7 linked regions of the Homo sapiens genome follow. The protein of the gene in region 5 purifies or fractionates together with the protein of the main gene of each other region. This does not show direct contact. Each region holds a gene or a part of one and is shown on either strand. Other genes may lie near its edges.

Evidence for each region.
Region 1: the proteins of SLC22A6 (region 5) and SLC25A46 purify together in Homo sapiens (affinity purification with mass spectrometry; 2 studies listed by BioGRID and IntAct, with this or other methods). This does not show direct contact.
Region 2: the proteins of SLC22A6 (region 5) and RAB32 purify together in Homo sapiens (affinity purification with mass spectrometry; one large-scale study listed by BioGRID and IntAct). This does not show direct contact.
Region 3: the proteins of SLC22A6 (region 5) and PTK7 purify together in Homo sapiens (affinity purification with mass spectrometry; one large-scale study listed by BioGRID and IntAct). This does not show direct contact.
Region 4: the proteins of SLC22A6 (region 5) and XPO4 purify together in Homo sapiens (affinity purification with mass spectrometry; one large-scale study listed by BioGRID and IntAct). This does not show direct contact.
Region 6: the proteins of SLC22A6 (region 5) and RAP1B purify together in Homo sapiens (affinity purification with mass spectrometry; one large-scale study listed by BioGRID and IntAct). This does not show direct contact.
Region 7: the proteins of SLC22A6 (region 5) and PLXDC2 purify together in Homo sapiens (affinity purification with mass spectrometry; one large-scale study listed by BioGRID and IntAct). This does not show direct contact.

What each region holds. Positions count from the first base shown.
Region 1 is NC_000005.10:110,742,007-110,745,506, forward strand, and holds part of SLC25A46 (mitochondrial outer membrane protein SLC25A46), read left to right. Parts: intron 1-40; coding exon 41-83; intron 84-1,723; coding exon 1,724-1,781; intron 1,782-3,500. UniProt on the Homo sapiens protein: Transmembrane protein of the mitochondrial outer membrane that controls mitochondrial organization.
Region 2 is NC_000006.12:146,550,333-146,553,832, reverse strand, and holds part of RAB32 (ras-related protein Rab-32), read right to left. Parts: intron 1-3,500. UniProt on the Homo sapiens protein: The small GTPases Rab are key regulators of intracellular membrane trafficking, from the formation of transport vesicles to their fusion with membranes.
Region 3 is NC_000006.12:43,128,314-43,131,813, reverse strand, and holds part of PTK7 (inactive tyrosine-protein kinase 7 isoform a precursor), read right to left. Parts: intron 2,838-3,500; coding exon 2,550-2,837; intron 2,088-2,549; coding exon 1,985-2,087; intron 1,585-1,984; coding exon 1,394-1,584; intron 1,304-1,393; coding exon 1,153-1,303; intron 1-1,152. UniProt on the Homo sapiens protein: Inactive tyrosine kinase involved in Wnt signaling pathway. Component of both the non-canonical (also known as the Wnt/planar cell polarity signaling) and the canonical Wnt signaling pathway.
Region 4 is NC_000013.11:20,776,829-20,780,746, forward strand, and holds the end of XPO4 (exportin-4), read right to left. Parts: 3' UTR 501-3,918; downstream 1-500. UniProt on the Homo sapiens protein: Mediates the nuclear export of proteins (cargos), such as EIF5A, SMAD3 and isoform M2 of PKM (PKM2). In the nucleus binds cooperatively to its cargo and to the GTPase Ran in its active GTP-bound form.
Region 5 is NC_000011.10:62,979,033-62,981,967, forward strand, and holds part of SLC22A6 (solute carrier family 22 member 6), read right to left. Parts: coding exon 2,810-2,935; intron 2,352-2,809; coding exon 2,228-2,351; intron 2,072-2,227; coding exon of another isoform or gene 2,069-2,071; coding exon 1,953-2,068; intron 917-1,952; coding exon 702-916; intron 565-701; coding exon 456-564; intron 1-455. UniProt on the Homo sapiens protein: Secondary active transporter that functions as a Na(+)-independent organic anion (OA)/dicarboxylate antiporter where the uptake of one molecule of OA into the cell is coupled with an efflux of one molecule of intracellular dicarboxylate such as 2-oxoglutarate or glutarate.
Region 6 is NC_000012.12:68,648,899-68,652,398, reverse strand, and holds part of RAP1B (ras-related protein Rap-1b isoform 1 precursor), read right to left. Parts: intron 2,000-3,500; coding exon 1,931-1,999; intron 405-1,930; coding exon 348-404; intron 1-347. UniProt on the Homo sapiens protein: GTP-binding protein that possesses intrinsic GTPase activity. Contributes to the polarizing activity of KRIT1 and CDH5 in the establishment and maintenance of correct endothelial cell polarity and vascular lumen.
Region 7 is NC_000010.11:20,141,432-20,144,931, reverse strand, and holds part of PLXDC2 (plexin domain-containing protein 2 isoform 1 precursor), read right to left. Parts: intron 1,638-3,500; coding exon 1,515-1,637; intron 1-1,514. UniProt on the Homo sapiens protein: May play a role in tumor angiogenesis.

The sequences.
Region 1 (3,500 bases), on a different chromosome or scaffold from region 5:
AGTAATCTTATTTTTTTATTTCTATTTTTTTTTACTTTAGAACAGCTGAATAGATTTGCTGGATTTGGTATTGGACTTGCAAGGTAATGTTTTATCTAAAGACGTTTACAGCTTTTATTTATTGAATTTAGAGTTTTTCTTTAATTTACAATATTAAATGATTATTATTGCTTCCTTTAGGTTGTTTCTTTGAAGCAGCAGCTTAAATTTTGAATAATATTTTGCAGAAAAAAAATGACCATTATTTAAAATATATAATTTGATAGTTTTTCCAGTAAGGATAGACTAGTCATCCAATTTTATAAACACAAAGTAATTTTGTAATGAGTATTGTAACTGTTTTCATGGGTCTATCCAAAAAATAAAATGAAGTGTAATCTTATCTCTCTCCCATCAAAATAATAATTTAGAATGGGGTTCATGAAGATCAAATGGCTCTGCTGATAAGAACTTTTTTCATAGGACATTTTCTGAAAGAAAAATTACATGGCATTTAATGATGCCATGTAACTGACGTGTCATTTCCCACATCAAACATACAGTGATCTAGTTTCATTTTATACCGTAGATATTAATATTGTGTATTATATATTGTTTCCCTTACTTACCTGTTTGCAGATCTGGTTTTCATTCTTTTCATGGGTCTATCCAAAGAATAAAATGAAATGTAATCTGTCTGTCTCCCATCAAAAAAGTAATTGTGCATGGAGGCTTCTTTCTAAACACTCTAATGCTTACAAGATATTTAGCAACATAGCATCTAGATTTTGTTCATAATCAGCGTTTGGTGATAGCATTACTTTTTTTTATATCTAACGATCATTTTAAGAAAATCCTTTAGTCTTGATTATTGTGATCCTTAGTGAATACCATTTTCAAAAATATTGGAATTGCACAAAGCTTACATTTCATGCCATAATGATCATTATTTTAAACATTTTAACGAAGAAAAACACCTTATTTGCATAATTAAACCCGAGGGTGTTAATGTCAATATAAATAAAATCTGTGTTTTCCATTCTGCTGGAGTTGTTTTTTGCTTCAATATTTATACTTAAAGCTTTGATTCATTTGATAGACTATTATTACATATAAATATGTGTGCACATGTATGTATATGTCACTCTGAGACCTGAAACCCACAGCTGTAATTGTTTTGTGGGGCACATTCTCAAAATAAATATTTGATACATAAATATTAGTCAATTAACATGGTCATTAAGAATCTTATAATTTAAGATTTATACTTAAATTTATACTTAAACCTTATAATTTAAGTGCACCAAAACCAAACATTTTTAGAATGGGGTTCATGAAGATCAAATGACTCTGCTGATAGGAATTCTGTTATTAGGACATTTTCTGAAAGAAATAATTTGCAGCATTAAATGCCATTTAATTGATGTGCCATTTCCCACATTAAACATTCAGAGATCTAGTTTCATCTTATACTATAGACATTAATATTATGTATTATGTATTGTTTCCCTTATTTACTAGTATGCAGATCTGGTTTTCATTCTTTTCATATTGAATTTCGTTATGGGTAGAATCATTTGCAAACATTTCTAGACATTTTTAAAGATCTATTTAATTTGTTTAAGAATGGAAAACATAAAATAATGCATGATTCTTCAGGCAAGAATAATTTCAGAAAGATACCTGTTGTAAATTTAATTTATCTCTATGTAGACATACATATACATAAATTATTTTTATATAGTCTCTTTACAGAAAATGTATTGGCACATCCTTGCATTGTTCTACGCCGCCAATGTCAGGTAAATGTAATTTCTGTGATCTTTTGAAGCAATACTTCTGACCCTAATATGAAGGGCAGAACTCACATAAATGACATGAAACCAGGTAATTGTTACTTCATGTGAAATGTTCCAAACTTTTTGGTCTCAAAACCTCTTTAAAGTCTTAAAAAAATATTGAGGATCCTAAATAACTTTGGTTTATGTTGGTCATATCTATTGATAGTTACCATTTCAGAAATTAAAATTGGGAAAATTTCAATGCATCTATATAATTCATTAAAATAATAACACCTGTTAGTAAGATAATATGTTTTTATGAAAGTAACTATTTTGCATTTTTGCAAATATCTTTAATATCTGACATAATAGGAGAGAGCCAGTTTCTCTCGTATGCTTCTGCAGTCAATCTGTTGCATCACGTGGTTTTTGAAAGAAGCAAGGAAGTTTAGTCTTGTACACATGTATAGTTGAAAGCAGGAGAGGAGTATATTATATTCTTTTGAGATAATTGTGGGTATTCTTTGCAATTGCACCAAAACTCACTGTGTCGCAGTTTCTTAAAGGTTATTTGCAATGTGAAATCAGAAATCATTTTAGTGAACTTTTTATACTTTGTTACATTAAAAAATCCATTTAACTATACTGCATCTTGAATAGATATTTTTACTTATGCCTGATTCCATGTAATTGTGCATAAGTTATTTGAAAAATATTGACCAATTGAGTTACATAGATCTTCCTGTTGTTAAAACATTTGATTATAAAATATCAAAAAATCATCTTCATTAAAAATACTACTGATCTCACTAGAAAAGTCTATAAGTATTGTCAGCTCTTGACGATGCATATAGATTTTCCAAAATTCTGAGTTTTAGTTGAAAATTCAAACTTATCATTGACAGTAAATACTGTTATTTATTTTTGTTTTAATCAACAATCTCACTTTGTTTATTTTTTAAAATATGTCTGTCCTGAAAGTGAATAGGTATAGTCCGTCAATGAGTTTTTCTAAGTAAAAATGATGTTCCGTGAAAAAAGTGGCTAGTTTAGCTTGCAGTTCTATCATACAAGTGCTTTCCTCATGACAGCAATCTTACTTCCTTATGTAACACACAGGATATTAATTAGAAAGAGGATGTGTACTCAAAGGTCAAGGATTCATAAAATTAACATTTTGTTACTTCATTGTCAAGGATATTACTATATGAAGGTTGCTTTTTTCTCTCTATGGGTAAATGAGGTGAAAAATTACTGTAAGTACGAAAATACAGTTTGATGGTGCTGCCTCAATTTGTGCTAATGAGCTGGGAGTTTTACCTACCATTGCTTTTGTACCATTAGTGAAAATGTCAAGACAGTGAAAAAAGGAAATTATATCTTAGTAATCACTAGGAAAATAATTTTGAACTTGTCAAGCCCCTGAAAGGGTAATGGGGCCCTCAGGAGTCAGTGGACCCCACTTGCAAACTCTGTTATAACCCACTTTTTTTTTTTGTTTGTTTGAGACGGAGTCTCGCTCTGTTGCCCAAACTGGAGTGCAGTGGCATGATCTCGGCTCACTGCAAACTCCGCCTCCTGGGTTCACGCCATTCTCCTGCCTCAGCCTCCCGAGTAGCTGGGACTACAGGAGCCCGCCACCGTGCCCAGCTAATTTTTTGTATTTTTAGTAGAGACGGGGTTTCATCGTGTTAGCCAGGATGGTCTCGATCTCCTGACCTCATGATCCGCCCGCCTCAG
Region 2 (3,500 bases), on a different chromosome or scaffold from region 5:
TTTAAATATATTTAACTGTTCATTTTTAAATAATTTTGGATTTACAAAAACATTGCAAAAAAAGTAAACATTCCTACCATTCACACATATTTCTCAAATGTTAACATCTTAGATAACCAGAATACAACTATCAAAATCAGGAAATTACATAATAGTGTTGTATCAGTGCTAGCCTAAAAAGCTTACTCAAATTGCATCAATTATCTCAATGCCCTATTTCAGATCCAGGATCATAAGCTATATTTCACTGTTGTCGCCCTGGTCTCTTTTACTCTCGAACAGTTCCTCACTCTCCTTGCTTTTCATGACCTTGACACTCTCAGAGAGCACTGGCCGGTGAATATACCTCCATCTGTGATGTTCGATGTTTCCTTATCATTAAATTCAACGTATGTATTTTTGGCAGAAATAAAACACAAGTGATGTACCCTGCACAGTTTATCAGGAAGCACACTGCTTCAAGTTGTTTTTGCCATGTTTCTCCACAGAAAAGTTATTATTTTTCCCTTTGTACTTAGTGCAAATATGTAAATATCCTGTTTCTCACCGCACTTTTCCCCACTAATGTTATCATCAATTAATTCCTCCCTACAACAATCATCACTGTGGTGTTTAATGGTGACTTTTTTATTTCTGCCATTCCTTCTACATTTATTAGCTGGAATTCTACTGTTAGAAAGAGGTTCCACACATGTATACATACGTGACTAACCTGCACGTTGTGCACATGTACCCTAAAACTTAAAAGTATAATAAAAAAATAAAAATAAAAAAAGAAAGAGGTTCCCTTCTCCCCCATTTCTTTATTCATTTGTTCATTTTTATCATGGATTATTAGTTTACTCTATAAGTTGAACCCATTACAGTAATTATTTAGTTTGTTGCTCAAATTGTCTTACATGTTTGGAGCTTGTATGGCAGTATCCTGTATCTTTGTCACATGTCCCCATCATTTTGTAAGCATTTCCTTAGTTTCTTGCACAACAAAATATCTCAGGCACATCTTTACTTGACTTGTTCCACCCGTCCTAAAATCAGGCATTTCTCTAGAGATTCCCATTCTTTTTACTGGAGAATGATATTTAAAAACCGAATTTTGAGCACGAGGTAAGTTAATTGGTTCTGTGGTGTCATTCCTTTTAAGCCCTCTCAGCAGGTATGGCTAGTAAATAAACGTATGTATACACACATGCATCTGTATCAACTTCTTTATCTGTTTACACATATGTGTGTGTACATACATATATCTATACACACTCACATATATATATGCATATACTCTTACACACACACACATATGAAACCTGAAGCTCATATTAATGTCTAATCCAATCCAATGCTATGAGGTTCATTGTAGCCTTTTTCCTTATTTGTAAACCCTTTCTCAGACAACAAGAAACCTAAAACAGCTGTGCTATTTACAGGCATCTTTCATAGCACTGAAACAAGCTTTTTATTTATTTTTTACCTCCACTCCCAAGATAAGTGTTAACTTTAATTCAAGTATTGATCTTTTGAATGTCCAAGTGACATTCAGTCCCAGCTATCCCCATTATATCAAATAATTATAAAATTCTCTAACTGTATTTGGAAGCAGTTGGTTAAAATTCCAATGATAGTGTAACTAGTCACATGTTAATGTAATTCCCATATGTTAATATTATTAAAGTTTCATATTAGAAATCCATTATTTGCCATAAAGGTGAAATGATGAAATTTATTTGCAAAAGTTATCTTTTGCCTATGTTCCTAGTGAAATTCGGATGACTGCAATTCAAGCAAAAGTCAGATCTGAAGTTAGCTGCAGGCCAGCTCAGAAGTGTACCTTAGTGACATTTAGGCAGTACTTTAAGCCTTAACTCTAAGATTTTTAACCTAAATTTTTTTATTACTGTTATTCTCTTGGAACACGTCTGGTTTACTGCTAAGGAAATTCTACAGAAGCTGCTTCTATTATATTTGTATGGAAGCACAGAGCAAACTTGAAACTTGTACTCTTAACCAGCGTTTCACCTTTCACCTCTGCGTGTAATCCTATCCATACATAAAGTGAAACCGATGACTTACACAGTCACAAGCTACTAGTCACATGACGTCTTACATCTGGGGGCAAATCTGGATTTACTATCTGAAAGATTAAATAGAGCCTAAAGGGGAATTTTGTCTATCATTTATAAAACTCCTCCACCAAAATGCACACTCGCATAAGCAGTTATACTTACTGCCCCTTTTTTTTTTTTCGTCTTTTTACAGCAAAGCTGGCAAGTAGAGCAAATCACCCAATAGGCATACAGAGCAGACAGAGGGCATGAGTGTCCAGAAGAACACGCCTGTAATCCTAGTGCTTTGGGAGGCTGAGGCAGGCAGATCACTCCAGCTCAGGAGTTTGAGTCCAGCCTGGGCAACACGGCAAAATTCTGTCTCTACTAAAAATGCAAAAAGTAGCTGGGCATGGTGGCACATGCCTGTGGTCCTAGCTTCTTGGGAGAATGAGGTGACTTCTCTATAAGAAGGCTTTCTTTCTGTGATTTTCTCCTTCGTGTCAGATTAAGTGCTCACATAGCACTCCTGGGCTTCATCTTTCTTCTATCACTATGTTTTATTTATGAAAGGAAATTTTAAGATGCTATATTTATTCAAACAATTAGCCTCTAGCTTAGGAGTGTACATTTCTGCCTGCAGTAGACAGTCTTTTTTTTCCCAGTGACTCCATCATTGCGCAATATTTTTGGAGCGGTCTCCTTTTGTGCAGTCTCTCATTGCTTCGCTTTTATCCCGCAGATCATCATTGGCATCAAGTAGTTTTTCACTCTAAGGGTAAGTTTCTAGTAGAGCTAAACCTAATCTGATTAGTAAATATCCAGAATGAGGTGGGTGATTTGGAGGAACAATCATACATACATACATATATAAAAACACCCGTAAACACACACAAGAAATCCACAGAACATAAACTAAAAGCTAGAACTGTGTTATGATTTCAACAAATTTATGGTATAATGTTTATCTGTCATCACAGAATTTTTCAAACATTTCATCATTCTTACATAAATCTGATTGTCACTAACCCCCTTATGTGAAAGTTCCAATGCACGTAACCCCCCCCCCAAACATTTTATATATGTATAATTTTCACCTTTTTTCTATATCTAGACTATTAAGATTTTTTTTTTTTTGAGATGGGGTCTCACTTTGTCACCCAGGCTGGAGTGCAGTGGCATGATCTCGGCTCACTGCAACCTCTGCCTCCCAGACTCAAGTGATCCTCCTGCCTTAGCCTCCCGAGAAGCTAGGACCACAGGCATGCACCACCATGCTCAGCTACTTTGTGTATTTTTGGCAGAGACAGGGTTTCGCCACGTTGCCCAGGCTGGTCTCGAACTCCCAGTTCAAGCGATCTGCCCGATCCATCTGCCTCGGCCTCCCAGACTGCTAGGATTACAGGCATGAGCCACCGTGCCTGGTCACTAGACTGTTAAGATTTTTGAAAGTCAACTGAG
Region 3 (3,500 bases), on a different chromosome or scaffold from region 5:
AACTACAGGAGATCAGCTCGGGAAGCAATGAGGCAAATGGCAATGCAGGTGCGAGAGAGAGTGATATGGTTTGGCTGTGTCCCCACTCAAATCTCATCTTAAATTGTAGCTCCCATAATTCCCACATGTTGTGGGAGGGACCCAGTGGGAGGTAACTGAATCATGGGGGCAAGTCTTTCCCGTGCTGTTCTCATGATAGTGAACAAGTCTCACGAGATCTGATGGTTTTAAAATGAGGCATTCCCCTGCAGAAGCTCTCTCTCCTTTGCCTGCTGCCATCCATGTAAGACGTGACTTGGTCTTCCTTGCCTTCTGCCATGATTGTGAGGCTTGCCCAGCCATGTGGAACTGTAAGTCCAATTAAACCTCTTTCTTTTGTAAACTGCTCAGTCTCGGGTATGTCTTTATCAGCAGCATTAAAATGGACTAATACACAGAATAACCACCATGTGCAACTGTCAAGACAGGGAAGCCACCTTCCCACAGGGCCACGTTGATAGGGCACCCAGCTCCAGGGTCAGATACCCCTCAGCCATACCAGGCAGGCTACTGATGATGTCCTCAGGGCTGAAGCCAAGTGGCATCCAAGCCCCTAGCCTAGGAAGCCACACCCCCAAGGACCATGGTCGTGCCTGACACTGCAAAGGTGTTCTATGTTCTCCTAGGGTCCAGGCAAGAACAGAAGTCCCTGCAGTAGGGCTGGAACCTTCTAGAGGTGTTTGCTTCCTCTAAAAAGTGTGTGTGTGTGTGTGTGTGTGTGTGTGTGTGTGTGTGTGTGTGTGTGATGTCTTTGCCACACTGGATCACGCTATCTAGACTATGACCACCTGACTACCTAGGTCTCTTGTGTCTCTCTCATCCCTGGGGTCTCTACCCTTCCATCCCAGAAGACCCATGTGGGTGGTGGGGAGAGAGAAGTGGAACCATCACTAGCTCAGAGTGCCTTTGTGCAAACTGGAAAAGGGCTCTTCCCAGAGACTCTTCCCTGTGTCAGACTCATCTTGTAAAAGCAAAACATTCAACTGTGTCTCTTGGAAATTTGAAATAATACATGTACAAATCTGTGATGTCTGTGATACAAATCGCACCCCCTTCTACAGAATGCATGTGTGTGGTACATGGTACTGGAATGCTCCCAGCCAGATGCCTTACCGACTGCGGTTAGTGATGGGAGTCTCATCCTCAAAGAGCCACTGCAGGCTCGGGGGTGGCTGGGCTGAGAACTGGCAATGGAACATGGCCTCCTCATACCTCGCTACTACCACGTCCTGGGGTGCCAGCACCACCCTGGCAAAGCTTTCATCTGGAGAGGGAAAGATGGGGGAGCATGCAGCCTGGGTGGTGAGGCCCTCCTGTGCTCACCTCATCCCTTCCGCCCCCACCCCAGGCTCACCAGCAATGCTCAAGGTGAAGTTCTGGCTGCTGCAAGCCTGGCCAAAAGCACTGTGGGCGCAGCAGGAATACAGCCCACTATGCTCAGGACCAGCTGGCCGGAGCGTCAGGTTCCGCTCCTTGCTGCTGACTGTGTGGTTGCTCTGACCATCAGAAAGGGGGGTCCCATCTCGGAACCATTGGTAGGTGGGCCTGCAGGGCAGACACAGTCAGCAGTGGTGGGGAGGGGTACTCAGTGGCCAGTGGAGAGGATACAGTATCAGAGGGTCAGGGCTAGACCTTTCAGTTTATACATGGAGAAACGGCCTGAGGAAGGGAAGGGACTTGCAAAAGGGCACACAGTAATTCTGATTCAGGGGCAGAATCAAGTTGATATTAGATCTCCCAGCTCTACACACAATGTGGCTCACTCTTCAGGCCACCAGGGGCCGGCATAGGGCAATATCTGGGGGAGGGCAGGGTGAAGAGCACTGTGGTGGTGGAACGAGTGGTCACAGAATGGAGCGAGGTAACATCCGCATAGAGTCCAAGATTTGGGGAGACATCCCTGTCCGGAATAACCCTCTTCATCCCCACCTCCCTGACTCCTTACCGAGGGTGCCCATCAATGTGGCAACGAAGTGTGACCTGGGTCTGTGGCTGGATCTCAGCTTCCGAGGCTGGATGCTTCAGGACCACAGGACCTGCCTCAATCCCTGTAGCAGAGGCCACGGTTGCAGTGAGGGGCAGAGCAGGGCAAAGGCGGGAAGGCAGAGGGCAAGGAGGACAAGCAGGAAGCCGTGGAACCTCGAGGCTCTGTGCCAACAGACACAAGGAAGCCCTGGAGGCTGAGGCTGGGGCTACAGTTACCAGATACTAAGTGCCTGCCTGGTCCCTGGCAGGTCAAGTCTGACACTTGGCCAAGGGCTCGGCCGCCCTTTCCATTTGCACAAGCATGCAGCAGATAAATGGGTCCCAGACTTGAAGGAAAAAATTTTGGAAAAAATATAACTTTTAATTTCCTCTTATCCACATGAGCAAAAAAAGCTGATGATAAATGCATTCTGCCTGGCCCGTTTAACTGGAAATGGGAGAAGCTGAGGTAAGGGAGGGATCCCCCAGGCCTCAGTCATTGAGGGTCTGACAGGGGGACTGGGCACAGCCCCCCTGGCTCTCACATTTGATGTTGAAGGAGGCGTTGGCACTGCGGGCTTCTTCTCCAGTGACATCATCCCGAGCCACACACTGGAAGGTGCCAGAGTCCTGCAGCCGGTCCACAGCTGCAAAGCTCAGGCTGCTGCCCTGGGCGAAACGCCGCTCCGTGTCCTGGACAGGGGCCCCATCGAGCAGCCAGTACACATGTACCGGGCCCGGAGCCTCAACCTCACAGCGAAGCAGCGCCCGGCGCCCCTGCAGTGCATCCTGGGAGGACGGCTGCTTGATGAAGACAATGGCTGTCTGGGTACCTGTAGATGCAAACAGGGGAGAGGCAGGGTCAGGGGGAGCTGCAGCCTCTGTCCTAACACAGGCCACCTTGTGCACAGGAGGAAAGGGGCTGTGTACACAGGAGGCGTCCAGTAAGTGCAGGTGTGAAGGATCATGATGCCACAATTGCAAGAGTCCCCTGAAAAACTTTTCTTTTTCTTTTTGAGATTTCTTTTTCTTTTTTTGCTCTTGTCACCCAGGTTGGAATGTGGTGGTGTGATCTCAGCTCACTGCAACCTCCACCTCCTGGGTTCAAGTGATTCTTCTGCCTCAGCCTCTCGAGTAGCTGGGATTATAGGCATGAGCCACCACACCCAGCTAATTTTTGTATTTTTAGTAGAGACAGGGTTTCGCCATGTTGGCCAGGCTGGTCTCGAACCCCTGACCTCAGGTGATCTGCCCACCTCGGCCTCCCAAAGTGCTAGGATTACAGGCGTGAGCCACCACGCCCAGCCCCCTGAAGAGCTTTTCAACTGTGCTGAGTGCTCTGTAGGATACAAAGACACAGTAGCCTCTCCTCAAGAGGTCTGAAGACTAGAGGGGCACACAGAACACAGTTACAGTCACATAAATGCCAAATGAATGGGGTGGGCAGGCAGTAGTGACTTGAGCACGAAGGAAGAAGGGACCCCTAAGGGCTGGCT
Region 4 (3,918 bases), on a different chromosome or scaffold from region 5:
GTTGCCAATGTGCCAGTATGAAGAGGTGGGGCCTTTAAGAGGTGATTAGGCCAAGAGAGTTCCTCCCTAATGAATAAAATTAGGTCCCATTACAAAGGGGCTTGAAGGAGGGAGTTGATTCTCTCTCGCCACCATCTGGTGATGGCTTGCTTGCCTCTTCCACATGATGGAAGTCAAAGGGCAGCCTCCAGAAATGAAAGAAGTAAGTTTCTGTTCTTCAGTCTCAGGTATTCTAATAGCACAGAGTAAGATAGTTGAATTAAATAGAACAGACTAAGATAGTTAACATAAATAGATCCATTTTCTCATTTTTTAAAAAAAAGTACAGTAAATAATATGGTGAAGTCTACCCCAATATCCCTAGGGTGGTTGTGGTTAGGGCTATAACGTAGTATCAATATGAAGATATTACAGCATGTATTTAAAAGCAATTGACTATTAGGTATCAGACTTAGTGTTATGATACATTTGTCTAATGAAATGAAATCTGTTTTCAGAAATAATCTTTAAATACAATGGAATTTATTGAGCATCTACTATTATATTTCATCCATCACTTTTAAATTTTTTCTTTGGGAGGAACACTTATAAACTCATGATATGGATAACAGACCTGTGGAAATTAATGTAAGCCCTAAGCAGCTTAGTTAGACATTGAATCTAGGTCTGCCTCTACCCTGCAGTCTACCAGTTCAAGTAGCTTTACCAGGTCAGTCCTTAGAAATAACCATAACATCCAGGGCAGTGCAGTTATAAACAGGTGTACAAATAAGAAGTTCTACTACTCAATACATCTTGGGCTTTCTTAAAGGTGTATTTGAAGCCTAAGATTAGGCAGAAATGAACATTATCAAAACAAGAACAAAACTGCTCACTACTGTGGGAATAAAAATGTTTAGCAGATCCTATTTGCTTTTGTTCATTCATCATCTCTGGGAAACATCAATGACTTACCTCAGTTCACTCTCATGCTATATATTAAAAATAATTTACAGGGACACTCAGTAGGAGGTTGAATTATACGCCAGACTGAGACAGGATGCTGCTGGGGGTGCTGTATGGAATTTCCCAGCAAAAGATTCTTTCATTAGTTTCACCAAATATACCATTTCCACTTAGTTTTAAAAGAAAGTCAAACTGAACTGCCATTTGAGATTACATAGAATGCACAAGACTCAATCTGAGACCCTATGTTTAAAAAAACAAAACTGTTTTATAATCTAATCAGCCTGTCAAAGGCATCACTCATAAGCAACCGAATTGTATTTTTGGAGAGCACCATTAAAGATGTCTTTTAAAAAACAGTTATAGATGTGTATTTATTTGGGACCTTTGAAATCATCTGTGGGTCTCAAATGACAGATGATTAGCCTGTGTGTATGGCCCCACACTTGGTAATGAAAGAAACAAAAATTCAAAATACACTCTAATTGGTTTTCTTAAACAACTTTTCTTTATCCACCTTTGGAGTGGAATAAATCTCAATATAAGCTAAATAACAACATTACAAATCAAAGAATATTCAAAGCAAATTCAGGTTAAAAATGAACATTTTAAAGATGCATTTTCTTTAAAAATTAACTTTTCACTTCATATGTTTACAAGATTTAACACTGGGCAAAGGGTGGATCTATCTAGCACACAGTAATATGGTAATTCACCACTTTCCCTGAAAGGCCAAAAAGAATGACTTGCTAAAAGTATTTACTAAATATGCACCAAAGATAATGACTTAACTAGTAACTGTGAAACTGTTTCTAAGACTGTGGGCTGAGATAAATATTATAAAATATAGACAAAATTTTTATATTTCTAATACTGGATATTCTGTGAGTACCACGGGTTCTCCCAGAAGGTGATGCAAATCTTGATTTTTATCTGTACAGATGTCTTCATTTTTTTAAATTTAAAATTATTTTAGGACCGTGTAATGTCCCCAGTGTCAATCTTCCTATAATGGTAAACAAACTAGCACCATTTCAATGCATTTCATAAAAGAGTCTAGCTAAATACCCATGAACAAATCACACATGGTCAAAACAAAAATGTAATAAAAATATTTAGTGAAAAGACACATTTTAACTCCCATTTATGAATTTTAAAAATACAAATAAAATTTTATCAACCTGATATTCAGCCTATAACTGGCTCAATACATAGCCTTATTTCCTAAAATCATATTGCAGCATCTTCTGAAAAACTAAATGCAATTTTATACCTTCATTAGTTATGTTAATAGAGGTAAATATTTAAACAGTACACTCATCCCTGGGTCTTTAAATAAAACTGAAAAGTCTTAGTGTAAGTTTAAAATTTTAATATTTATAAATTTAAAAAATTTTACACGTGCTGAGTGGTAGCAGTGCTAACATTTTTGTGACCATTAAACCACAAACTCACTGCATAGAGCTTCTTTCTTTGTACAGATAATCAAATCACAATACCAACATTTGCAATTTGTAATAATTTTATGTGGTAAAAGACACCACACCAGGAAGCCTGGGCTCAGAAAACACTTGAGGTCAGATCCCTAGTAGGTACATAGTGCAGATGCAGTATATAATTTCAGGCTAGGAAAATTAGCTACTAGTATGTATCTGACAGTTCCTAATAGCTAAGAGGCCTAAGAATGCAGACGGGGAGAAAAAAAACCAAAACCAAAAAAAAAGACACCTCTCCAATTGCTGGGAGGGCCTGGGAATAGGTGAAGATCAAACCACAGTGGGAGAGGAGGGTAAAGATGTGAGCTTCAAGCGGGTAATGGGCAAGCCACACCTCCCAGTTCCTAGGAGGGAATCGCCACGGCCGACTTCAGCATTCTCGTCTTTACTAAGACTTACCCATAGAGAACTACAGCAGGAAACCGATTTCTTCATTCATTCTCTTTAAAAAGTATGAATGCCCAGTATTAAGCTTCTATTTTTATTTGAACCAAACATATTCTTTGGTTAACTATGTCATGGGTTCTCACTATAATCAACAAAGCATACTTCATATATTTTATATCTAAATGAAAATATGCTTAAAATTCAACTGGAACCATGGCATTTCACATCAATTTGAGCTCAGCAATATGCCTAATTTGGACATTTTAATTTTAGAAAACCAATTTTTAAAAATTCTTAAATGCAGTGTTTTCAGAACATAGTTACCAAGTCAGAGAATAACCACTTATATTTTAAAAAGATTAAAACATTATTATATCCTCAAATCAACAATGTTTTTTTGTGGGAAAGCTTACAGAAAATTATAATGTTAAACCTCATAGCCAAATCAGTTCCTTATTCTCTGGTTTTAGAAAACACAAACAAACCTTAAGAAGTACCGAGGTTCCTTCTGACTTAAAAGGTTAATGTTTTATTCAGGAACCAATAACAATAATTCCTCATCAAAGACAGCTAACTTAGTAAGGTCAATTGACAACCACCTCTAACAACAGAGGTGGCAAACAGATAAAAATTGTTTAACAGAGAAAAATATTATTTCAGGGTTCAGAATGATGTTGAATACTAGGAGACTCAAACTTGTAATCCTTGAAACTGACAGCTAGTTCCCTTCAATACTTTAGGGGTTCATAGAAGTATTAACAGAAATGGGAAACATGGTGATATTACAACTATAAAGACTTGACATTTTTGTTAAAAGAGAAAGTTCAAAGACAGTTAAGGGGAGTGTTAAATAATGCTGACTGGGGGGAAATGATATAGATACTTGCTTTTCAAATGAAAATCATGGACAAGTGGTAGTAACCATCCCATCTGAACAGAGTAATGTAATATAATTAGATACACAGTTTACAACGAAATAAGACTAAATTCTTAAAATTAGTTTGAAAAAAACCTGCAGTTTGTTTACATTAAAAGTCATACTTTACACCAGACAAAAACTCAATGCAGTGATGTTAACATGCTACTGTCT
Region 5 (2,935 bases):
TACTATATTTATTCCTATTGCTGGGATATTATCAGGAGTGAATCTTGAGATAGGAAATTGCTTTCATGTTTGTGGCCTTTGCTTTCAGATATATCACTTGGTTTATAGATGGAATGTAGATGTGGTGGCAGCTTCTAATTTGTGTTTTGGAGATTAAAGGAAGACTTCAATTTGTTGTCTCTGAGATGTGTCTTCTTGGTTCCTTACCCTGCCCCAGTTGGTGGCTACTTTTGAGATCTTCTAGGGTCCCGTAAGGGCTTAGAGGACAGTAACACCTGTGTTAGCTAGGCCATGAGGTGTGTACTCAGTGGCTACTATGTGCCTTGCAATGATGAGTGTTGGGAGGGGCCTTTGGGCTGGGATGTACTTGATTTAGCTCTGGGGTCTGACCTGTGCACAGAAGAATGTCTTTCCCCAGGAAAAGGCTGTCATTCTCCCATTAGGCTCCCACTCACCGGATCATTGTGGGATACAGTTCCCCAGTATACAGGAAGATGCAGTTGAAGGAGGCAGCCAGACAACCCTTCCCCAGCACAGCAAGAGAGGTTCGGACAATGGACTGGTCTAGAGAGAAAGAAGGGGGGATAGCAGGAGCTTGGGAGTGGAGGCTAGGAGGAATTGGCCCCCTCCCTTCTGAGATATTGGGTTATGTGTGGGGATGGGGCTGAGGAGAAGGGGCCAAGGTGCTCGTGGGTGCTCACCCTGGGGTATCACCCCATTGAGCAGGATGCAGATGCCTGCCAGCAGCAGTGCAGCCATCTGGGCAGGCCGGCGACCCAGGGAGTTGATGACAAGGAAGCCCACAAGCTTGGCAGGCAGGTCCACAGCACCAAAGATCACCTGGATTAGGTAGATGCTGACTCCAAAGCCCTGCAGGTCCATGACCAGCCCATAGTATGCAAAGCTAGTGGCAAACCTAGCAGAGAGAAGAGAGGAGTATGGAGTTTGTTAGGAAGGCTTAAAGTGGGGTGCTCTTTCAAAACAGTGGGGGAACTGCATTGGGTACCCTGCTTAAGGAGCTGGAATCTGCCTTGGCTAATATTTCTTCATTTAACCATATCATTAAACTGCAGAGTTTAAGTATTGAGGTAGTCCTGTAATACTCCAAATTTGCCAATCTTCTGATAACTAGGGTTGCAGTTAATTGGGGGAATTTTCACTTAGTTGCTCTGTAGGATTTACATAGGTTTAGTTTTCATCTTATCAATTGATGCTGGACTGAGGGAGGGCAGGTGCATACCCAAGCCATCTTCAGGGCCAAGGCAGCTGGGAGAGTAGAGAGAGCCTTCTGGGACCTGTCCATGGTCCTGGGATGAGTGTTGTGCTTTTTAAGATGTCAAGAGCCCAAAAAACGAAGCTCAAGATTATTGGCTAGAGCCCATGACTGAGAATAAATCCCAAATTGGAAGCAAATAATTCATTGGCAGGATTGTTCCTTCTGACTATGTTTCCCTTAACTGTCATGGGATTGCTATGGTGATGGGAAGGAAGGATAATGGGGAGTGTTGCAAAGGGAAAGGAAGATTTTCTTTGGCCTTGGCCAAAGTGTTCTTTGGAGATGAGTTTTAGTCATCTTGTTGCCTGTGCCTGTGTTTCTGGCAGGCACCATCAGGCCAGTAAAATCTATGAATATTTTGCAAGCCAGACTGGTCTCTGCCTTCATGATGTAAGTCTATTGACTCTGGAGCCCACTGGTCCTGATGAGGTGTCTCCACATTGGAACAGGGCTAGTGAAAGGACAAGATGGGGAGACTGGTGTCCCGTGTGGAGACTGGGACTGAGTCAAGGCTGGGGGCATCTGGTTCCTAAGGATGATCCCTAGTGTGGGGTTACTGCTTCTCACAGCAGGTCTGCTGACCTTCCTGCCCTCTTCTCTGGCCTCTTTCACCCATTGTGTCTCCTCCTGCCCCAGCCAGCCTTTTGTCTCAGTCTGTCTGTCTTTCTGGGCCTACCACAGCATGGAGAGGCAGAGGAAGAGGTGGCGGAGGGTGGGGCAGCGCAGCAGCTCCATGGCCGATGCCTGGCCTTTGCCCATGGTCAGCTCCTTCTGCAGACTGGCCCGGAGTACCTGCTGGGACCGGCAGAGCTCAGGGCCCGGGATCCTCCCAAGGAGCTCCTCCCAGCCTAATCCCTTACTTAGAGGAGTTCCCTGGGCCCTGGGTCCTGGGTTTGGGGTTTGGGGGTGAAGCCCTGGGAGGTTATCATGGGAAGTCTCAGGGGATCTCACCTCCATACTCAATTTGGCTCCTTCTTCCCGCTTCCCATTGATCCGGGCGACTCTCTGCAGGGCCCTCAGGGTGAGGTCCAGCCTCCCGGAGGAGGAGTGCCAGCGGGCCGACTCAATGAAGAACCTGGGAGCGGGGGTGGGGGTGGGTGTCAGCATGGCTTCAGTTCCAGTCAGCTGGGTGGGGGGCTGGGGCTGGGCTTTCTAGGGGTCTGCGATGGGATTTTATTTAAGGTTGGGAACCCAGGGGCCTTGCCAAATCCCTCTCTCTAGGACCACGAGGCAGTGCCCAGCTTGGTAATGACATATTCCCCAATCCAGAAGCTCAGCTCTTGGTTGCGGGTAGGGGGAGCAGAGCAGGCAGGCTGGAGAACGGAGTGGGGGAAGCCAGAGAATTGGATATCCTGGGGCAAAGCCTTCTCCCCACAGCCTTGGTTTCCCTATCTGTCACACAGAGGCATTGGACTGGGTTTGACCTTCTCTACATTTGTGGGATGGGATGTGTGCTGAGCTCTGGGAGATGTCCTGTCCCTTGCAGCCTCTGGGCTCCTGTGGCAACCACCTCCAACCCTAGGCCCCACGCACCAGGAGTAGATGAAGAAGGCAAAAAAAGGCGCAGAGACCAGTAGCTGCAGGTGGCGCCAGTGGGGCACAGCGTAGGCCACACCAGCCAGGAGGAACTGGCCCAGGCTGTAGACATAGCCAATCAAG
Region 6 (3,500 bases), on a different chromosome or scaffold from region 5:
TCTTGGCTCACTGCAACCTCTGCCTCCTGGGTTCAAGAGATTCTCCTGCCTCAGCCTCCTGAGTAGCTGGGATTACAGGCTCCCACCACCACACCTGGCTAATTTTTGTATTTTTAGTAGAGATGGGGTTTCACTATGTTGGCCAGGCTGGTCTCGAACTCCTGACCTCAAGTGATCCAGCAACCTTGACCTCCCGAAGTGCTGGGAATAGAGGTGTGAGCCACTACAACCGGCTGCAAGCAGTACTTTTAAATAAGCTTAACTAATATTTGTCTATAGAGTACTAGCATTTATGAAGTCAATACTGTACAAACGGTGTATATACTTTGGTATTTAGTTTTACCTACCGTTCCTGCAGTATCCAAGATTTCAAGCATACACTGTTGTGCATCTACTTCAACTTGCTGGTAGAAAAATTAAAATACATGTTCATTTTTTCAATGTACATAAAACTACCTTAATATACACAAAAAAGCTAATGTATCAAAAATAAGACACACAGATTTTAACAACTTTACAAACTAATATCCAGCAATACTTCAACAAAGCAGGAGGAAAAATAGCTAAGTAATCAAGATTCAAAGACCCCCAAATTGTAATCAAGTTCAAAAGCCATGTGTTCTCAAGTCAACACAGGGAAACCTACACGAACCAGTCTCAATATGGATTCTCAGCACTTAATTCTAGAGAAAAAAATAGTTTCGAAATAGCTCAAATAAACAAACAAAACCAGCAACAGTTCCAACAGTATCATAAGTAATTCTGTCTAAATTCTCCCATGATACTTTAGATATACCTCATTTCTCTAGGTAACTATATGCCCTCACCATACTGGAACAAGATTTCTGGAATTAAGGAAGCAGTGGCACAGCTATTAAATAAATTACACATATATCCCTGTTACCCCTTTCCATCTAATATTTCCTAGGGAAAAATAGGTATTTAGAATTAGATGTAGAAAGAAAAGAGTAATACTGTCTCACAGCTGGGGTGCAAAAGTTTCCAGTTTTTTTTTTGGTAGACTATGCACATGGAGGGAGGAATGGAAACACAGTATTTGTGCAACAGCGGGGCCAGGTTGGCTGCTTCATAGAGGTTGGGAAATACCTCTTTCCCTACTAAGTTAAAAATGTCTACACATTGTTTTATTGTCACATGCTGTTAGTGGACACAGGAATTCACCTTTCTATAGGCTGAGCATCCCTAATCTAAAAATCCAAAACTTGCAATGTTCCAAATCCAAAAGTTTTTGAGCCATGTGTGGAACATCACGCTACAAGTGGAAAATTCCACACATGAGCTCATGTGACCAGTCACAGTCAAAATGCAGCCAAAACTTTGTATCATGCATAAGAATATTAAAAATATTATGTAAGATTATGTGTATGAGGTGTATATGAAACCATGAATTGTTTAGATGTGGGTCCCATTCTATTTCATTATGTATATACAAATATTCTAAAATCAGAAAATAATCTGAAATCTGAAATACTTCTGGTCCCAGTTATTTCAGATAAGGGATATTCAACCAGTATTGTGAGTGGTGGCACTTTCTCAAGAGGTTAGTAAGTAGAAAGCTTAGGAAGACCTGTGTCCACCTATTTCTAGGTTAAAAAGAAGGGAGCTTGAGAGTAATCAGTCTTGCTAGGTAGGGGACTGAAAGTAACATGGGGCTACTACTTGAAATGGATGGTCTGCTTTAAAGTTTATGTGTCAAATTACAAAAAATTCTGTGAATATGTGAGAGTATGGGTGTTTATGATCCTCTTAAACTGGTAACTATGCAATGCCAGAAAGTGTAAACTTTTCCCACTAATTTTATAAATTAACTCTGCCTCCATCCTTTGTATAAAACATTCAATAATTATAAAGCTAAAATAAGTATTTATATTAAAATCAAAAGCAAAAGGCCTTCCAAAGTAATATATACCTTTCTATAAGAATCTTCTATCGTAGGATCGTATTTTTCTACAAAAATTCCTTGAACAAATTGTACAGTCTGAAAAAAAAATTAAGAAACCATTATACTTCTAAAGAAAAGAGTACATTCAATCTTTAATGTAATTGTAAACTGAGTTCACACAGGGAGTTACACCATCAATGAAAAAAAAAACCACAGCCAATACTACATTCGAATGTGTACATTTGGTAAGAAAATTACCTCAGGAAGCTGTTTATTTTTAAATAAATAATCACTATGCTCCTTATTGGGTAATTCTAAATTTAGAGATCATATATTAAAAAATTTTAAATGTCTCTGGTTTCAGTCCTTTGTTTTTTTTCTTTGAGACAGAGTCTTGCTCTGTCTCCCAGGCTGAAGTGCAGTGACGCAATTTTGGCTCACTGCAACCTCTGCCTCCCGGGTTCAGGCCATTCTCCCACATCAGCCTCCCGAGTAGCTGGGATTACAGGCATGCACCACCACACCTGGCTAATTTTTATATTTTTAGTAGAGACGGGGTTTCACTATATTGGCCAGGCTGCTCTCGAACTCCTGACCTCAGGTGATCCGCCCACCTCAGCCTCCCAAAGTGCTGGGATTACAGGCGTGAGCCACTGTGCCGGCATTGTTTCAGTCTTAAGAGCTTAAATTTGATTTTTAAATTAGAAATTGACTAATTGTTATGTATACACACATACATGCAGGATCAACTGACCTCCCCATCACTTTGGATACAAATGAAAAAGCAGTTCATTTCACATTGTATGTACTTCTCAGTTTGTTCCAAGCATGACACTTCTCAGCTAGGTGGCCTTTCTAAGTGGCCAAGATGGTTTATCTTATGAGTGAGACAGAAGGTCAATCTATTTGCTTGTGAGGCTTTGCTAAGCTCTGAACTATTCATCAAATTATTTTCCCTACGTTTTTCCTCTTTCCCAACCCTCATTACCCAGTTATGTCTTCATTCTTGCTATACCATTCCTTGATGCAGAAAACGTGCCGTTAAAAAATGTAAAGCTGGACAGTCAAAGGTAATATTTGAAGACTTTTTATAAGCTTTGATATTTTCTAACATAAAATGTACAGGGTAAGACTATTCATAAGAAGAAAGAGCAAGCCAGGCATGGTGATTTATGCCTGTAATTCCAGCACTTTGGGAGGCAAAGGTGGATTACTTGAGGCCAGGAGTTTAAGACCAGCCTAAGCAATATAGCAAGACGCCATCTCTACAAAAAATTTTAAAAATTAGCCTGGCATGGTGGCACGTGCCTGTAGTCCCAAGCATTCAGGAGGCTGAGATCACTTGAGCCCTAGCCTGGGCAACAGAGTGAGACCCTGTTTCAAAAAAATAAATAAATAAAAAGACCAAAATTTATTCCTATCTGGCTCTGAAATGCGAATGCAAAAAGACATGTATTTGTACGCTCTCAATCTCTGTGCTTAGCTCAAATTGTATTCCAGCATAACTCGTGTCATTCTGGAGTCAATGTTCCAGAGAGAATATGATCCACCCAGATATAATTAAAAGTTGAATAAAATTACAAGAAAAATATTATAT
Region 7 (3,500 bases), on a different chromosome or scaffold from region 5:
AAGAGCTACCTAGGAACAAGGTATATGAAAATATATGAAGAGAGACTTATTTAATATGCTTTATGATTTTGATAGCAACAGTATAAAAACTTGGTCATTAGAATCATGTGCCCATGAGTAAATGACCCTAACATCACCTAGTGAATGTCGGAGTTTGGAAAATAGTCAGTGTTCACTAAATCATTTATTGTTTCCGTAGGATAGACTCCCAAGGCAATTTTGCATGGTAATCATAGAATAAGTTTCAGATAAGTTTCTGGCTGCAGTTTTGCCTCAAGAATAGTGTACTTACAGTCCACTTGCACATCCTTGGGTGTTAGCACCTCATGAGTTTTTAAAAAATGGAAGAGAAGAGAATATAATAGTTCTTAAAATAACAGAGATGAATCATTATTGCAGCTAACACTTAGAGTTACCTAATATTGGATCATACCTTGGTGTTACTCAAGATGTTCAACGTGTATTTCCTAAGGTGAATGTCTAACTATGTTTAGTTTCCTCATTGTGCTATTTTGACCTGTAAAATGGCTTTCATCACACTGGTCAGGAGATGGCTCTTAGCAAAGTGATCATATTTCTCCAAGGCTACAGCTACCATCAAGTCTATTCCAACCATGAGCAAATTTCTTCCTTGATCATCAGAAATAAGATAAAAGTAGAAATAACTCTGTTCACCCCAAATGCTTGTATTATTTGCAGGCATAAAATTGTCTTTTAAACAAATAAATATCATTTTTGAATGATAAATACACAGAAAATTCTATATTTAATCATTGCAATATAAACTCTTTGTTACCTATAATTTATTTTCTCTACCAAAGTTACAGCTTTCAATAAGATGTTGAGATGAAAATTCATTTATGTCTCCAAGACCTTGAATTTCTCGCTTGGATTTTGGCACCACTTAATGATTTATTATAGTTTTTTTCTCTATTTTATATGTCCCAAAAAGTAATAGCAGGGATACATTGCTCTTGGTATATTTGATAAATCTTGACAGGCTCTCACTCATTTTCTAAAGTCAAGAAAACTTTATTTTCTTCAGTTGAACTACCCACAACTAACTACTTTATACTTCTTAAAATATGTGTTCATCTTATTGATACATACAAGTCATAAGTTTTGGAAATTTAATGTCAATATATTATGGCACTTGCCTCAACTGGAAGATCAGAACTAACAAAATTATTCTTATTTCCATTTTTTTCTGATGGGAAAATTGGAAAACTGACTTATTGAAATAGCATCAAATAAATGCGTTTGCTTTGTCTGAGGTCTTGTCTACAGCAACTCAGTTTTACTGTGTATAGTAGATGTTAATAAATGTGTTGAATGAATGAATGCCATTTGTGTACTTTATAAATCTTAGCAGTATAATATTTGTCCTCTCAGACCATTTGCATCAAGCAGTTTACACACCAAAAAATAAACAGTTTACAAAAACATTAACATGAATCTGATGCTTGAGGTTTAAAAATATACATGCAGCAAAAAATAGGCTACTCAACACATACCATTATCAAAATATCTGACAGTTGAATTTCTGGATACACTGGGATCGAAATTTGCCATTAAAGGTGCTATGTACTGTGTGGCTGTTAGCATTCGATGTACGACTTCTCCAGTGTATATGAAACCTAGAATTAGAAAAATAGGAAACATATTCAGAAAAAGAAGCCCATATAAAATTATGATTAAAATACTTCCAACTCAATTACAGTCATATTATGAAAATAAAATGTCATGGTAGCTGGAAAAAAAGGAACATATTTAATATCTTAGTATCTAATTAACAATACTTGGTCTGGATTAAGTAACAAATTCTTGTATAATTTGGTAGAACCTTGCAAATCCGAAATCTATAACATGTACAATTTTAATTGGGGGGAAAGTGACCATTATCTGGATGAGATTATTAGGCTAAAAATGCTAATACAGTATTATAAGTAATTCAAATATTCAATTTGCTATTATTAATCCCTTGTTATTTTAACAATAGCTTACCACACAAGTCCTTTTAATTAGTGAATTCATTTTCATGGTATTTATGTAAGCTACCATCTCAGCATAGGAATTTTAGAAACGACATCTGGTAAAATGCAGAAAATGTTTTGATTCTTTTTTTTTTTCTTGAAAGTTGAAAGGGGGCTAAACACCCATGGTGACGTTTTCAAATTGTTGGTTTGCTCAAGCCTCTATATTATCAGCACACTGTCAAGAAGATAAAGTCTATATGTTTGCAGGTAAGGTGGTAAAACATTGACAATGCACAAATGCCTCTCTATTTAGAGATTTAATCAATGCCAGTCTATTCTAGCAGTTGGATAATGAGAGGGAATTTATTATGGAGAACTTTGGCTTTGAATTAACTTTCAATAGCTCCTATGTTACATGTCTAACCCACTTTCAATTATTCACACTAGGTTTATTTACTTTGTGGATTATCCATGACAAATTGTTAATCCTGTGCTGGCTTCTTGCTTTCAAGGTCTTTAGCTGTCTGAAAGGAGAGTCAGCTCAGGGATTGCTAACTAATTTTAATATTAATCTAAGAAATACACAATTGAGATTACACATGCAAATGCACACACACAAATAAAATGCAAGGCAAATTATTTGTGACAATGCAATTGTAATGTTTGGGCAGTCATCAGTTAATTAGATACCCGACACTAATATAAATCATTTTTCTACTTTCACAGGAATTAATAAGATAATAATATTTAAAGCTCAAAAAATGTTAAACTTTGATCACTCATTTTATGGTCTGAATAAATATTTCATTGGCAGATTGCAGTCTTCATTGTTTCAAATTCAAAATTGTGATGTCTAGGTAAGTTATTGCAGAATTAAACCTGTAGTTATTTACTTAGAAATTAATTTCTCTCTTTTTGGCAATATCTTCTTTCCTTTGAATACCTTTTAACTTTTCATCAAAAGCATAATTGAACTCTAGCTATTCATCTAAAAAAATTTTTAACTGTAAAAATCTTCAATGTGTACTTTTATCATCATGACTTTTTGTTTCTTATGTGACTCCTTGTTTCTTATTTGCCAAGCACTATCTTTCAAAACAAATACCTGATGCTTTAAGCAGAATTTTGTACATTTGTAATTTCACACAGCTCAAGCATATTAAACATATTATGGTGATTTGGTCATTGCTTTTATTATATTTCCTTCTAGATTTTCAGAGTCATACTCCTAATATTCAAAGTGCAATATTACATCCTTAACATTATAAATATGAAGAGTAACTCTTTTCCAGGGTCTCTATTTTTTCTCCTATCCTCTCCAGCATGCATTTATAATTTATCATTAGAATGAATACAAAAATTCTATAGATACCATCTCTGAAGAGAAATGTTTGAATTAGACTCTGAAAGTGTTATTTCAGAGAAAATAGCTCCAAGTAGGTTATTTTTCTTCTTTATATTCTCCAAGTACAAATAGAAGAAACTGCTTAACTTGGAGGATGGAGGGCAGTTATTCAAGGAAGG